4 linked regions of the Homo sapiens genome follow. The protein of the gene in region 1 purifies or fractionates together with the protein of each later gene. This does not show direct contact. Each region holds a gene or a part of one and is shown on either strand. Other genes may lie near its edges.

Evidence for each region. Proteins that work in one complex are often made in the same cells at the same time.
Region 2: the proteins of NDFIP2 (region 1) and SAR1B purify together in Homo sapiens (affinity purification with mass spectrometry; one large-scale study listed by BioGRID and IntAct). This does not show direct contact.
Region 3: the proteins of NDFIP2 (region 1) and DDAH1 purify together in Homo sapiens (affinity purification with mass spectrometry; one large-scale study listed by BioGRID and IntAct). This does not show direct contact.
Region 4: the proteins of NDFIP2 (region 1) and ZDHHC9 purify together in Homo sapiens (affinity purification with mass spectrometry; one large-scale study listed by BioGRID and IntAct). This does not show direct contact.

The regions. Positions count from the first base shown.
Region 1 is NC_000013.11:79,533,138-79,536,912, forward strand, and holds part of NDFIP2 (NEDD4 family-interacting protein 2), read left to right. Parts: intron 1-185; coding exon 186-319; intron 320-3,775. UniProt on the Homo sapiens protein: Activates HECT domain-containing E3 ubiquitin-protein ligases, including ITCH, NEDD4, NEDD4L, SMURF2, WWP1 and WWP2, and consequently modulates the stability of their targets. As a result, may control many cellular processes.
Region 2 is NC_000005.10:134,626,082-134,629,856, reverse strand, and holds part of SAR1B (small COPII coat GTPase SAR1B), read left to right. Parts: intron 1-3,775. UniProt on the Homo sapiens protein: Small GTPase that cycles between an active GTP-bound and an inactive GDP-bound state and mainly functions in vesicle-mediated endoplasmic reticulum (ER) to Golgi transport.
Region 3 is NC_000001.11:85,353,413-85,357,187, forward strand, and holds part of DDAH1 (N(G),N(G)-dimethylarginine dimethylaminohydrolase 1), read right to left. Parts: intron 1-3,775. UniProt on the Homo sapiens protein: Hydrolyzes N(G),N(G)-dimethyl-L-arginine (ADMA) and N(G)-monomethyl-L-arginine (MMA) which act as inhibitors of NOS. Has therefore a role in the regulation of nitric oxide generation.
Region 4 is NC_000023.11:129,816,140-129,819,914, forward strand, and holds part of ZDHHC9 (palmitoyltransferase ZDHHC9), read right to left. Parts: intron 1-3,775. UniProt on the Homo sapiens protein: Palmitoyltransferase that catalyzes the addition of palmitate onto various protein substrates, such as ADRB2, GSDMD, HRAS, NRAS and CGAS. The ZDHHC9-GOLGA7 complex is a palmitoyltransferase specific for HRAS and NRAS.

The DNA.
Region 1 (3,775 bases):
TAAATTTGGACTAAAGTAAGATATATGATTGTAATAGTAATTTATATATTTTATAGCTTATAACATAGGCCTATAATAGCAATAGTAGTCCTGTATTGGTGGCCAGTTGTAAATTATTAAGTCATGGCTATGGCTACAAAATTAAATAGATTTTATTGGTTATTCTTTTTGAATTCTTTCTTCAGATACAGAAGTTTACGGTGAGTTTTATCCCGTGCCACCTCCCTATAGCGTTGCTACCTCTCTTCCTACATACGATGAAGCTGAGAAGGCTAAAGCTGCTGCAATGGCAGCTGCAGCAGCAGAAACATCTCAAAGAGTAAGAAAATTTCATCATTTCTTTTGATAAAATTATTTTCGTTAATTGATATATACATTTAGTAATACTAAAAACAGTTCTTTGTGTGTAAGTGTGTATGTAGATTTTTTTTGAGCATTATGGGTTTAAACTGCACAGGTCTACTTGTATGCAGATTGTTTTAAATAAATATATTGGAAAAATATTTTGGAGATCTGCAGCAATTTGAAAAAACTTGGGACAAATTGCATAGCCTAGAAATATCAAAAAAATTAAGAAAAGGCCTGTAATGAATGTATAAAATACATGTAAATAGTAGTTTATGTATTATCGACTGTTTATGTTATCAGTAAGGCTTCTAGTTAACAATAGGCTGTGAGTCGTTAAGTTTTGGGGAAGTCAGAGTTATACTCAAATTTTCTACCGCATGCAGGTGGGTCGGTGTCCCTAACCCGTGTATTGTTGAAGGGTTACTGTATTTGTTCTACTGTTGCTTATGTGTGTGGTCACTTTTTGTTGAAATTGGCATTCTCCTAGTTAAATTCACCTTCTTTATCCCTTGACTTCCTCTTTTCTATTGCTCTTCCCCGCTTATCCCTTCCTAAATTTTGATTTCAGGCCCCTCATGTGTTAGCCTTCACTTCGCATCCTAACTCACTCACTCTGGTTACCACCACTTGGAAAGTTCTTCTCTTTGCCTGGACCTCAAGTCCACTGACCTCTTTGCTGTCCATGTACTTATTTATCTTCTTACATAGTTTGAATTCCATGGCCTATCATTTTAATTGTGAATCATCTTTTTTTCTATTTATGTTTCTATATTAGCATAGCCAGTTTAGTGACTGTGAAAGAACTCAAGGTAGCCAAAAAACACAGAGAAATGTTACAAGGCCTTCAAATTATTTTTGTCAGCTGTTTTTTTTTTTTTTTTTTTTTTTGATAACATTCTACTCTAGAATTTTGGAATGATGATCAAGCATTCTGTCTTCCTCATCTACATGTTTTAGTAATGGAGTTAATGAGATACATGTGTATTACTCTTTGCTCTGGTAAATGGAGTGGCTGTCTCAGTAATGGAGAGTCAGTGAGATACATACACATCTACTATTCTGCAGCCAGGTAAGAGGCAGAAATTATTTACATTTTAGTGTGGCTGCAAGGAGGGCTAGAATTTTTTGCCTTTTTTTTCTTGCTTCAGACTTGAGAGATGCCGTTTCAGATCCCTGGATTCACCCCATTTTGTTCGGGAAAAAGACAAAAAAATCAATTCACCCAGGAAAGCTAGAATTAGGTGAGGAGTCAAGGGAGAGAGATGTGCTTCCATGTATGGCATTCTCCTCTAGCTGCTATGAGGTCAGAGCCCAGCAAGCAGATCCTCTGAGAGAAGAGCATGTGCCCTGAATGTGTTTCTTTGATCAGCAATAACCCTATTTATGCCTGCTCCTACTACCCTCTTCCAGCACACACAGGGTTAAACGTCAACATAAATAGCTTTGGACACAGTTATGAAGGTAGATAAAGACAGTAAACTCCGAATTTATTTTTTATGCCTTTTCCTTCACAGAGGAGGAAAGTAAGTCTCTTAACACAGTGGCATAATATAGCTGAGTCAATAAGAATTTTTGTTGCTTTGAGGGGAACATCACAGAGGAGGAGGATAGATCTAAATAGGGTATTTTTGTCTAAATAAGTTCTCGGTTACTTAGAACACATATATTTGTAAATGAACATGCACATCTCTCAGTGAAGTAGATTGATTCCTCTCTAGCTATGAAAGTCCCAATAACTCCTTTTCTCAGGGGGTGTTTGCCCAGAGACCTTAAGAAGTATTATGGACCGTAGATCATTTACTGCCCTAACTTCCATACAATAGGATAGAATTCTAAAGACAAGGTAGGAAGCATTAAGTCTTGGTAAGTGTGCTTTGAGAAAAGTTGATTTTACCCCTTTTGAAGAGAAAAGTCTGAAGTATTACTGTTCCATTCCCTCATTGTCATCATTTCCAGCACCCTGTTTTAGAAAGTAAATGTAATCCTCAGCCAGAATTGGAACATGTCCATAAAGAAAAGCTCCCTGTTTTTACCTGCTTCTGATATCATTGTAACCCCAGCTTGTGAGCATTGTGGAAAATTTCATAGACAGCAAAGTATTAATAGAATTGTGTACAAGAGACTAACTTAGGTCTTGTAAAAAATCTTATAAATTTACCAGTGCTTCCTAACCCGGTGCTTCAGCACCCTCTTTGTGCAGAGTATGAATGTTTGCATATGAGTCTCCATTACCTGATTGAGATGAAAAATTGGTCAATGCTTGAAAATTGCTAGGAGAGTAGATTTTAAGCGTTCTTGCACAAAAAAAATATTTGAGGTACTGTACATGGTAATTAGCTCAATTTAGCCACTCCACAATGTATACACATTTTAAAACATCATGTAATACATCATAAATATATACAGTTTTTGTCAATTACAAACAAAATTTAAAAATTGAAAAAAAGTCTCATCAAATTAGCATTTGAGTACATTCAGTTGTAAATGAGTCTCAGCTGGGTGAGTTGAAAGCTTGTTTCCTAAATCAACTCTCACTGGGAGAATATAGATAGTCAAGAGACTTTAAAACTACTGTTTTTACTATTTCCTATTTCTGATGTGTAGAATTGCACGTATGTTATGGAATGGTTAAGTAGATTTCTGAAAATGACAACTCATTGTTAATATTTCTATGAAAAATGCTAATTCCAAACTATTAATTTTATAAGATGTTTAGAACATGGCTTGTTCTTCAGGTAGACTCATTTCATCTTATAATGGGTAGGGCTCTTTTTTTGTAACTTGTTTTAAATTGTTGCAGTAACTTGTCTTTTGACTAGATAAATCATGAGCAACACCAGGACAGAGATCTTGCATTTACATTCCCAGTACCTAGTTATTTATCAGGCACATTTTTGTTGTTTAGTCAATGACAGTTGATTAAGTTAATGAATGCTTTCTTTGTGTTAGCCAATGTGGGAAAATAGAAAGAGGAAAACACCACAGGTGTTCTGTTACAGCTCTCTATTTTAAAATATTTTGATGTCTTTACCAATTTCAGGATTCACAAATTAATGTTTAATGTAGTTGAAATTATTGCCTAGATACCATTTTATTTTTTAAACATCTTATATAAATATTTCCCTGTTACTTAATAGTTAAATTCCCTGTAATCAATATGCTATTGAAACTTAGTGGCCATTCCTCTAGAGTGAACAATTATTTTCAAATGTTTGTGTTTCGATTTTTTCTATTAATATTATAAAAGACATCTTTGGGCATATTGCAGTGACTCACTCCTGTAATCTCAGCACTTTGGGAGGCTGAGGCAAGCAGGTTGCTTGAGCTCAGGAGTTTGAGACCAGCCTGGGCAACACAGCGAGACCTTATTTCCACTAAAAAGAAAAAAAAAAATCAGCTAGGTGTGGTGGCATGCACCTGTAGTTCC
Region 2 (3,775 bases), on another chromosome or scaffold:
TGGAGTGCAGTGCCACGATCTTGGCTCACTGCAACCTCCGTCTCCCGGGTTCAAGCAATTCTCATACCTCAGCTTCCTGAGTAGATGGAACTACAGGTGCCTACCACCACACCCAGCTAATTGTTTTTTTTTGTTTGTTTGTTTGTTTGTTTGTTTTTTTGAGATGGAGTCTTGCTCTGTCGCCCAGGCTGGAGTGCAGTGGCGCGATCTTGGCTCACTGCAACCTCTGCCTCCCAGGTTCAAGCGATTCTCCTGCCTCAGCCTCCTGAGTAGCTGGGATTACAGGTGCACGCCACCATGCCCAGCTAATTTTTGTATTTTTAGTAGAGAAGGTGTTTTACCATGTTAGTCAGGCTGGTCTTGAACTCCTGACCTCGTGATCTGCCCGCCTCGGCCTCCCAAAGTGCTGGGATTACAGGGGTGAGCCACCGTGCCTGGCCTATTTTTGTATTTTTTCTTTTGTAGAGACGGGGTCTTCCCATGTTGCCCAGTCTGGTCTCAAACTCCTGGGTTCAAGTGATCCCCCCACCTCGGCCTCCCAAAGTGCTGGGATTACAGGCATGAGCCACTGCACCTGGCCTATTTTTGTATTTTTTTTGTAGAGATGGGGACTTCCCATGTTTCCCAGGTTGGTCTGAAACTCCTGGGTTCAAGTGATCCCCCCACCTTGGCCTCCCAAAGTGCTGGGATTACAGGTATGAGCCATCATGCCCAGTTCATCCTTCTTTTTTTTTTTTTTTTAAAGACAGGGTCTCACTATGTTGCCCAGGTTGGAATGCAGTGGTGTGATCATAGCTCACTGCTTGAATTCTTGGGCTCAAGCAATCCTCCAGCCTCAGCCTCCTGAGTAGCTGGGACTACAGTTTCTTGCTACCATACCCAGGTAATTTAAAAAATTTTTTGTACCGGGCATGGTGGCTCACATCTGTAATCCCAGCACTTTGGGACACCGAGGCGAGTGGATCTCGAGGTCAGGAGTTCAAGACCAGCCTGGCTAAGATGGTGAAACCCTGTCCCTACTAGAAATACAAAAAAATTAGCTGGGCTTGGTGGTGGGTGCCTGTAATCCCTGCTACTTGGGAGGCTGAGGCAGAGAATTGCTTGAACCCAGGAGGTGGAGGTTGCAGTGAGCCAAGATTGTGCCACTGCACTCCAGCCTGGGCGACAGAGTGAGACTTAGTCTCAAAAAAAAAAAATTTTTTTTTTAGAGATGGGATCTTGTTATGTTGCTCAGGCTGGTCTTTAACTCCTGGTCTCAGGTGATCCTCCTGCCTTCGCCTCCCAAACTGCAGGGATTACAGACATGAGCCACTGTGCTCAGCCTGGATATTTGTATTCTAGGACAGTTACTACACCCATTTCACCATAGCATTACCATGCTTTGCATCCCAAAGTTATTAGTGCATTGATTCTACAATCATACTCTGATGTCATATTTGCCTCTTTAGACTATTAGGTCCCTTATTTTCTCCCAATAGTACTTTTTGGGTATTTGTATTTTGTCATCTTATGTGTATTTTTTTTTTTTACAGGACCCCTGAGAACTAATGTGTATTTTTTATTTTTATTTTATTTTTTTGAGGCAGGGTCTCACTGTCACCAAGTGCATGCTATCACATCTGGCTAATTTTTGTATTTTTTATAGAAATGGGGTTTTTCCACGTTGCCAAGGCTGGTCACAAACTAAATATGTATTTTTTTTCTTTTTTTTTTGAGACGGAGTCTTGCTCTGTCACCCCGGCTGGAGTGCAGTGCAGTGGCACGATCTCGGCTCACTGCAACCTCTGCCTCCCAGGTTTGAGCGATTCTCCTGCCTCAGCCTCCTGAGTAGCTGGGATTATAGGCATGCACCACCATGCCCGGCTAATTTTGTATTTTTAGTAGAGATGGGGTTTCTCCATGTTGGTCAGGCTGGTCTCGAACTCCCGAACTCAGGTGATCTGCCCGCCTCGGCCTCCCAAAGTGCTGGGATTACAGGCGTGAGCCACTGCTCCCGGCCCTTAATGTGTGGTTTTATTTATTTATTTATTTATTTATTTATTTATTTATTTATTTTTTGGGATGGAGTCTCGCTCTGTCGCCCAGGCTGGAGTGCAGTGGCGCAATCTCGGCTCACTGCAAGCTCTGCCTCCTGGTTTCACGCCATTCTCCTGCCTCAGCCTCCCGAGCAGCTGGGACTACAGGCGTCCACTACCACGCCCGGCTAATTTTTCTGTATTTTTGGTAGAGACGGGGTTTCACCGTGTTAGTCAGGATGGTCTCGATCTCCTGACCTCGTGATCCGCCCGCCTCGGCCTCCCAAAGTGCTGGGATTACAGGCGTGAGCCACCACGCCCGGCCGGTTTTAAAAAGTAAATGAGCCAGGCATAGTGGCCTATGCCTGTAGCCCCCAGGTACTCAGGAGGTTGAGGTGGGAGGATTGCTTGAGTCCCCGAGATTGAGGTTGCAGTGAGCAGAGACGGCGCTCCCTGGGTGAGAGGGAGACTCTGTCAAAAAAATAAAAAGTGGCGGGGCGCGGTGGCTCACGCCTGTAATCCCAACACTTTGGGAGGCCAAGGAGGGCGGATTACGAGGTCAGGAGATCGAGACCATCCTGGCTAACATGGTGAAACCCCGTCGCTACTAAAAATATAAAAAATTAGCCAGGCGTGGTGGCAGGCTCCTGTAGTCCCAGCTACTCGGGAGGCTGAGGCAGGAGAATGGCGTGAACCTGGGAGGTGGAGCTTACAGTGAGAGGAGATCGCGCCAGTGCACTCCATCCTGGGCGACAGGCGAGACTCTGTCTCAAAAAAAAAAGTAAATGGTTTTGTGTAATTACTCATGTAAATCAGTTTTAAATATTAAATGCCATATAAGCTTTTTAAAATTTGCTTTTAAAATTTTTCTATAATAGCTTTTTTGAGATATAGTTGATATACCATAAAATCGACCTTTTAAAATTGTACATTAAGTGTTTTTAGTATAGTCACATTGTTGTGTAAACATCACCACTATCTAATTCCAGAACATGTGATCATCCCAAGAAGAAACCCAGTACCCATTAGCAATCATTCCCCATTTTTCCTTCCTTCAGTCTGACAACCACTAATATACTTACTCTATGGATTTATCTATCCAGGATATTTCATTTAAATGAGCCATCCATGTAGTTTAATGGAACAAGGCTTTAAGAAGTTACTTGTAATCTGAGATTCTGTTCCATTACATCCTTTGCACTGGTTTTCATGTTACTTGAGTAGATCACTTTTCTAATCTGCAGAGAGACTTTTCCTGTTTGGTATTGGTGCAATAAATAAATCTGCTGACGTGTGTATGTTTCCTTGTTCTTGACCTTTGCTCTTCACATGTCTTAATAGTGTGTTCATGGTGTTGTGTAACCTGTTTTCTGGGCTCAGGTATCTGTTTGCAGCTAAGTAACTTTTATTCTTAGTTGGGCATTTTTACTTCTACTTAAAATAACAATAAAAAAACAGTTAATTCTGTTTCTAATTACTCCTAGTTTGTTTTAAGGTTCCTAGAAACCACATTTTTTTTTTTTTTTTTTTTTTTTTTTTTTTTGAGGCAGAGTCTTGCTCTGTGGCCCAGGCTGTGGTGCAGTGGCTCGATCTCGGCTCAGTGCAACCTCTGCCTCCTGGGTTCAAGTGATTCCCCTGCCTCAGCCTCCTGGGTAGCTGGGATTACAGGTGTGCACCACCACACCCAGCTAATTTTTGTATTTTTAGTAGAGATGGGGTTTTGCCACGTTGGCCAGGCTGATCTTGAACTCCTGACCTCA
Region 3 (3,775 bases), on another chromosome or scaffold:
ATAATGTCCTTATTAAACGGGCAAATGACATAGGTCAGGTGATGTTACGACAATATCCAAGGGCTTATGTTGTTGGCAGACACAGGAATCTTTTGTGGCACACTGACAGTTTTTTGGGTAATGGCATGATTGTGTTGTCCTTTAAGAAAACTCATTATATAAAGATCAAAATTTAACTCAAGGAGAGGTATTTTACTTGAAAAAAGTATTATGCACTTTATTAAATAGTCAGCTACAATGAAAAAATACCAAGTTTCTTTAATTCTTTCAAGATAAAAATAGGTTTATAAATTAATTTATTTATAACTTTTAAGAAAATCTTTTAAGAAAAACATAATACTCTGAGGCAAAAAAAATACTGATTTCTCTCTGAATATGTTTTCTCACATTTCATGTGGAATTCTTTTCCAAGAAACAAAGGGAGGAAGAAAATTTCCACATTTATGTATATAACAAATTTATAGGGTGGCATGCATACCATTTCCATTTTAAAAGACTAAGGTGTTCGGAGCGTGATGTGGGCTGATTGAAAAAAAGTAAAAAAAGGCTAAGATGTGATGGGAAAGTACAAAGAGAAGGATGCTGCTTATCTCTTCAAAGTAGGTTGGACTTCTGTCTCTGGCAGTACGTTGGATGAGATCTCCTAAATAATCTTCCTGATGGAAACAACTAAAATACTGAAATGGACATCTAAATTTTTTTGATGTCTTTTGTGTCATTTTCTTCTATGCCAATTCACAATTTTTGTTTTTCCCCTTCCTGTCTCAGTCATTTATAGGAGAAACCAGGCCATTTTTCCTACTGACTGTCCTACATTCTTGCTTTGACTGGTTGCTTCCTCTTATAACTTAACATTTAAATTTTTTCCTTTATCCTTTGTATTTTCAGTAAGCAGGCAGTTTCATGTAGATGGTTAATTAGATGCTCATTCATATATTTTTTTAATAGGACTACTGTGTGTTCAAGTGGCATCAGCCTGATTCCCTCATTATAAAGTTTCCTGTCAAGCTTTCATATAGCAGTTTTAATATCATTTGTTGATCATTGCACAGATCCATTATTTTTTTATTAGGAATCTGCATTTACTCGCTGCAACCCTAAAAAGAAAATCTCTCCTCAAGTATTTGGTCTACTTGAAATGAAATTCATAAAGGAAAGAAAAGCTAAATACTTGAGTCTTTCTTTTACATATAAATTATTACAGTTATGAGTTAGTGTTCCACCAACTTGCAATAATAACCAATAAGTTTTTTTAAAAAAAACCTCATTACCTTTGAATGAATCAAAGATTAAATCACAGTGGAAATTACAAAACATTTAAAAAAACTAAATGATAACAAAAATATCCACATAAAAATAAGAAGGAGTCTGCTAAAGTAGTACTTGGAGGCCAAGTTACATAGCATTAAAAGCTTACATTAGAGAAGATGAAAGGCTAAAATTAATGAGATAAAATTCCAACTTGAGATGTAGAAAAAAAGAGAACAGAGTAAAAAGAAAGAAATGTGAAGGAAGGAAATACAGAAACAGAAAAGAAACATTCAAGAGAAAGAGTTCAACCAAGCCAATAGTTGGTCCTTAGGAAAGATTAATAAAATTAACAAACCTCTGGCAAACAAAGAAAGAAGGCATAAATTAACATTACCAATGAAAAGATAATATAGCTATAGTTGCTGTGAAGCTTAAACAGATATTAGGAAATATAAGTAACTTTATACCCAACATATTGAAAACTTAAAACAGATAAAATCTTAGAAAATGGAACGCATCAAAACTGACTCAGGAAAATCTAAATTGTCACATAATCATTAATCAACTAAATCAGTTTTAAATTTCTCCATAAAGAAGGCACAAGAGCCTGTTTCCAAAGTTTAAGGAATATATAATTCAAATAGTATTGATTCTAGAGAATAGAAAAAGAGGAAATATTCCCTAATACATTCTACGAGGCTAATGTAACTCTTTTATCAAAACCAGACAAGGATAACAAGAAATATAAATTATAGGCCACAAAAATAATAGTCATAACAAAATGTTATCGAACTAAATTCAACACTGTGTTAAAAAGAGAATACATCATGATCAAATTTGATTTCATGCTGGGGTTGCAAGACTGGTCAAATATCAGAAAATGAATTAATGAAATTAACTACATCAACAGATTAAAGAAAATCATATAATCATTTCAGTGACAAGAAAAAGAGTTTACTCTATCACCTGAAATTCATTTCCAGGTGTTTACTTTAGAGAAACTCTTGTATATGTTCCCAGGAGACACACACAAGAATGTACATAGAAACACAGAAGATAATCCACAAAAACTGGAAAACATCCAAAAACACATCAGTAGTAAAATTAATACATACATTATGGTGTATTCTTATCACAGAGAACTACACAACATTGAAAATGAACTACAGCTACACACATCAACTTAGATCAAAAGTAGAAAAATCACCTAAGAGTTCATATAATGTGACTCTAATAAAGGTATCTTGTAGCTTTATAAAACTACAAGACAAACAAAACTAAAACAACATACACTTTAGGAATACATGCATGGAGGCAAAACTCAAAGAACAACAAAGCAATAATTAACACAAAATTCAAGACAGTGGTTACTTGAGGTCAGGGGAGAGGCTGGTTTTGACTGGGGACCCCACAGGGGTGTCTATGGTCCTGGCAATGTTCTACTTCTTAAGTCAGGAGGTGGACACCCAGGTGTTCATTTTATTATTGATCTTTAAACTGTACATAAACATTTTATAACTCTTTTTTAATGTACTCTATATTTCACAAAAATAAATAAAAGTAGAGGTAAGTTGCTGTCTATTTAAGAGAAATGGTATTGAAACAATTTTTGCCAGTAGCTGCTTGCCTGACTGACAGATTTCCCAGCAGGAACTGGATTTGGAAAGCAGCTTTCCTTCTGTCCATTTCCTGATAAATTATTAATGAGGCTTTGAATTACAGAGAAAAGAGGACATAGAGCACATAGAAAATGTTACAGACCTTATTTCTTATCTAACTCTTCCTAATCCAAAAATTGAGTGGTAATAGTTGTATAACATTATGAATGTAATTAATGTCACTTGAATTGTACACTTAATAATGGTTAAAATTGCAAATGTTATGTGTGTTTAACCGCAATAAAATAAAAGAGATGAAGAAAAGTGACAAGTAGAAAATAGAAGGCAGGAACACACATTAGGTGTGAATGGAGTGCCAAGGAGGTAAAGATATCCCAACATCATCTCAGTTTTGAACAAAGTAACTATTAACACATTAACTTAAGTATTGAATATAACAAATAAAAAAAGTCTACAGGTAGTATCAAAGGCAAGCCTAAATGCTTAGTACCTACTTTGAAGATAGGTCAAAACTACTGGGCTTGAGATGCTAGGGAAAGACCTTTGACCAAAAGAAGAGACTCCTAGTGTAAGTTGCACTTTCACACTGAGGAGATTTTAGGGGGTCTTTCTGGCTCAGCTGCTAAAATAAATGGTTGTGAACATAGCTTGGTTAAGCCATATTTCAAATGTTAACAGTACCTGCTTACAATAAGTTATTCATTGCATGGCTATGTTCTGATAAAAAAGAGTTATATTGTAAGGAAGTGTGATTTACACATCTAACTTTTCACAAAAGCCTATTTTGTTAGATAAACAGACTGTTGTTCTGTACTGTCAAAAAGAATGAAAGTGCCATCAACGGGAGACACAAAGAATATTCTAAGGGGAACTTACTAGGCAGATTCAAAGAATGCCTGAGTCTG
Region 4 (3,775 bases), on another chromosome or scaffold:
TGGATTTGTTTCAATAAATACAGTTGGCCCTCCGTATCAACAGGTTCTGCATCCACAACTAAACCTAGATCAAAAATACGGTATTCACAAAATATGAAACTCCTGGAGACGGATACAGAGGGCTGACTTCATATCCATGGGTTCCACAGGGCCACTGCAGGACTTGAGAATGCATGGGGTTTGGTATTCAAGGGCAATCCCTGAAACCAATCCCCCAAGGATACTTAGGGACGACTGTATTTTGGATCCGCATTTGGTTGCAGATGAGGAACACACTGATACTGTATTTATTGGAAAAAAAAAACCCTCATTATTAAGTGGGCCCATGCAGTACAAAACTGCATTGTTCAAGAGTCGACTGCACATAAAACAAAAACAAAAAACAAACAAAAAGGAAATAGGGCAAAAACTAATAAATACCATAAAACCTATATTTAATATTTTTCCTAGTCACCAATAATTCATTGTAATACTAGTAAAATAATAGCATATTTTATGCCTATCAAAATAAGAATATAAATAATAAAATCCAGTGCTAGTGAGAATAGGGTAAAATGGACACTCTAACATACTGCTTGTGGGAGCATAAAATGAAAGAACCTTCCCAGAAAGCAATTTGGCAGTACGTATCAAGAGCCTTCATAAAGCTTGTACCCCTTTGGTAGAATAAGTCCATTTTCAGCAATTTCTCATAAGAAAATAGAAATGTACACAGAAATTTTAAGTTCAAATTTTTATTTTTATTTATTTATTTATTTTTGAGACACAGTTTCACACTTGTCACCCAGGCTGGAGTGCAATGGTGCGATCTCGGCTCACTGCAACCTCCACCTCCCAGGTTCAAGCCTCATCAGCTGCCCGAGTAGCTGGGATTACAGGCATCCGCCACCACGCCCAGCTAATTTTTGTATTTTTAGCAGAGACGGGGTTTTGCCATGTTAGCCAGGCTGGTCTCGAACTCCTGACCTCAGGTGAAATGCCCGCCTCAGCCTCCCAAAGTACTGGGATTACAGGCATGAGCCACTGCGCCCGGCCGAAGTTCAAACTTTTAAATTAAATTTTGTATTGTTTGGAAGGCCCAGGCAGGGGAATCATGAGGTCAGGAGTTTGAGACCAGCCTGGCCAACATGGTGAAACCCCATCTCTACCAAAAAATGCAAAAATCCGTGGGTCGTGGTGGTGCACACCTGTAATCCCAGCCAATCACGAGGCTGAGGTGGGGGGATCACTTGAGCTCGGGAGGCGGAGGTTGCAGTGAGCTGAGATCACGCCACTGCACTCCAGCCTGGGTGACAGAGTGAGACCCTGTCTTAAAAAAAAAATCTATTATGGTAAAATATACATAACATACAATTTGCCATTTTAACCATTTTAAGTGTGCAATTCAGTGGCATTAATTACATTCATAATGTGGAACCATCACCATTATCTATTTCCAAAACCCTTTCATTACTCCAAACAGAAACTCTGCACCCATTAAGCAGTAACTCTCCATTTCCCCCTTCCCCATCCCCTAGCAATCTCTAATCTTCTGTCTCTATGAATTTGCCCATTCTAGATATCTCATATAAGCGGAATCACACAATATTTGTCTTTTTGTGTCTTTTTTTTTTTCACATAGCATGTTTTCAAGGTTCATCCACATTGTATCAGTACTGTATTCCTTTTTATGACTGGATAATATTCCACCGTATGTACATACCACATTTTGTTTAACCATTCATCTGTTGATAGACACTTGGGTTGGTTACACCTTTTGGCTACTGTGAATAATGATGCTACGAACACTGGCGTACAAGTAGGTTTTGAGTCCTTGTTGTCAATTCTTTTGGCTATTGTTATGGAATGAACTGTACCCCCACTCCCCAGTTCCATATGTTGAAGCCCTAACCCCCAATGTAGCTGCACTTGGAGGCAGAACCTTTAAGGAGGTAGCTAAAGTTAAATGAGGTCATCTGGATGGGGCCCTAATCCGATGGGACTGGTGTCCTTGTAAGGAGAGGATGAGACACCAGTAGTGTGTGAGCACAGAGAAAAGGTCACGTGAGGACACAGCAAGAAGGCAGCCATCTGCAAGCCAGGGGGAGAGGCCTCACCAGAAACCATCCCTTCTCGCACCTCTATCTTGGACTTCCAGCCTCCAGAATTGTGAGAGAAAAATTCCCATTGTTTGAGCCAGCCAGTCTGAGGTATTTTGTTATGGTAACCCAAGCAGACTAATATAGGTATACACCCAGGAGTGGAATTGCTGGGTCATGTGGTAATTCTATGTTTAACTTTTTGAGGAACCACCAAACTTTTCCACAGCAGCTGCATGATTTTACATTCTCACCAGAAATGTATGAAGGTTCCAATTGTTCCACATCCTTAAGTTTAATAATTATGATTGCAGTGTTACAACAATGAATAAAATAGAAGAATGAATAATGTCTAATGACAGAAGACTGCCTGAATAAACTTGAATAGAACCATATGATGGATTATGCAGTCATTAAAATAATATATTAAAGAAACATTTATTAAAGATGTAGAAAAACGCTCAGGATAGAATGTTAAATGACAAAAGCAGGATTAAAAACTATCATGTTACAGTCCAATTTTGCAGAAACACTAGTAGGAAATATAGCAAAATGGAGAGTGAATTTAGGATTAAGTTTTATTTATACTTTCTGCACTTCCCATATTTTCCACAATGAACATGTGTTATTTTGATGAATAAAAGACTACAAAAGAATAAAATACATCAATTTGGGCCAGGCGTGGTGGCTCACACCAGTAATCCCAGCACTTTGGGAGGCCGAGGCAGGTGGATCACAAGGTCAGGAGATAGAGACCATCCTGGCTAACACGGTGAAATCCCGTCTCTACTAAAAATACAAAAAAATTAGCCAGGCGTGGTGGCGGGAGCCTGTAGTCCCAGCTACTCGGGAGGCTGAGGCAGAAGAATGGCGTGAACCCAGGAGGCGGAGCTTGCAGTGAGCTGAGATCGCGCCACTGCACTCCAGACTGGGAGAGAGAGACAGCCTCCGTCTCAAAAAAAAAAAAAAAAAAAAAAAAAGAATAAAATATATCAATTTGAAAGAAAAGTGAGCTGTGTACTGGTGAAAAAATAAGGCTGTAAAAATGGTCTATCTCCTGCTGAGGAAGCTACATCTTTTCAGGAAAGGGAAGAAAGGTATAGAGAAGAATGGTTATACAGATATATATTTTTTACAGTATTTTAAATCACATTTTTTCTGATAATACAAGTAATACATGCTCATTGTAGAAAACTTGAAAAAAATAAAAGGAAAAATGAAGAAATCACAGTAGTGGAGGATGGCATATGAAAAAATGAAGGAAACAAAATCACTCATAATCCCACAACCTATAGATAATAAACTATAAAAATTGTGGCATATTTCCTGTATTTCCTTGCATATTTCTTTATACATCATTAGATTTTTTAAAAATAGGTAACTGACTTCACACTGTAAATGTAGCCTATCTCCCATTTTGTCATTTAGCTTTCTGGTATGAACTCTTTCCATCAGTCTAATGTACGAATGTCCTATTATTTATTTATTTATTTATTTAGAGACAGAGTCTTACTCTGTCGCCCAGGCTGGAGTGCAGTGGCACAATCTCGGTTCAATGCAGCCTCCACCTCATGGGTTTTTTATTCTCATGCCTCAGCCAGGGTCTCAGCTGGGATTACAGGCACATGTCACCACGTCCAGCTAATTTTTGTATGTTTTAGTAGAGACGAGGTTTCACCATGTTGCTCAGGCCGGTC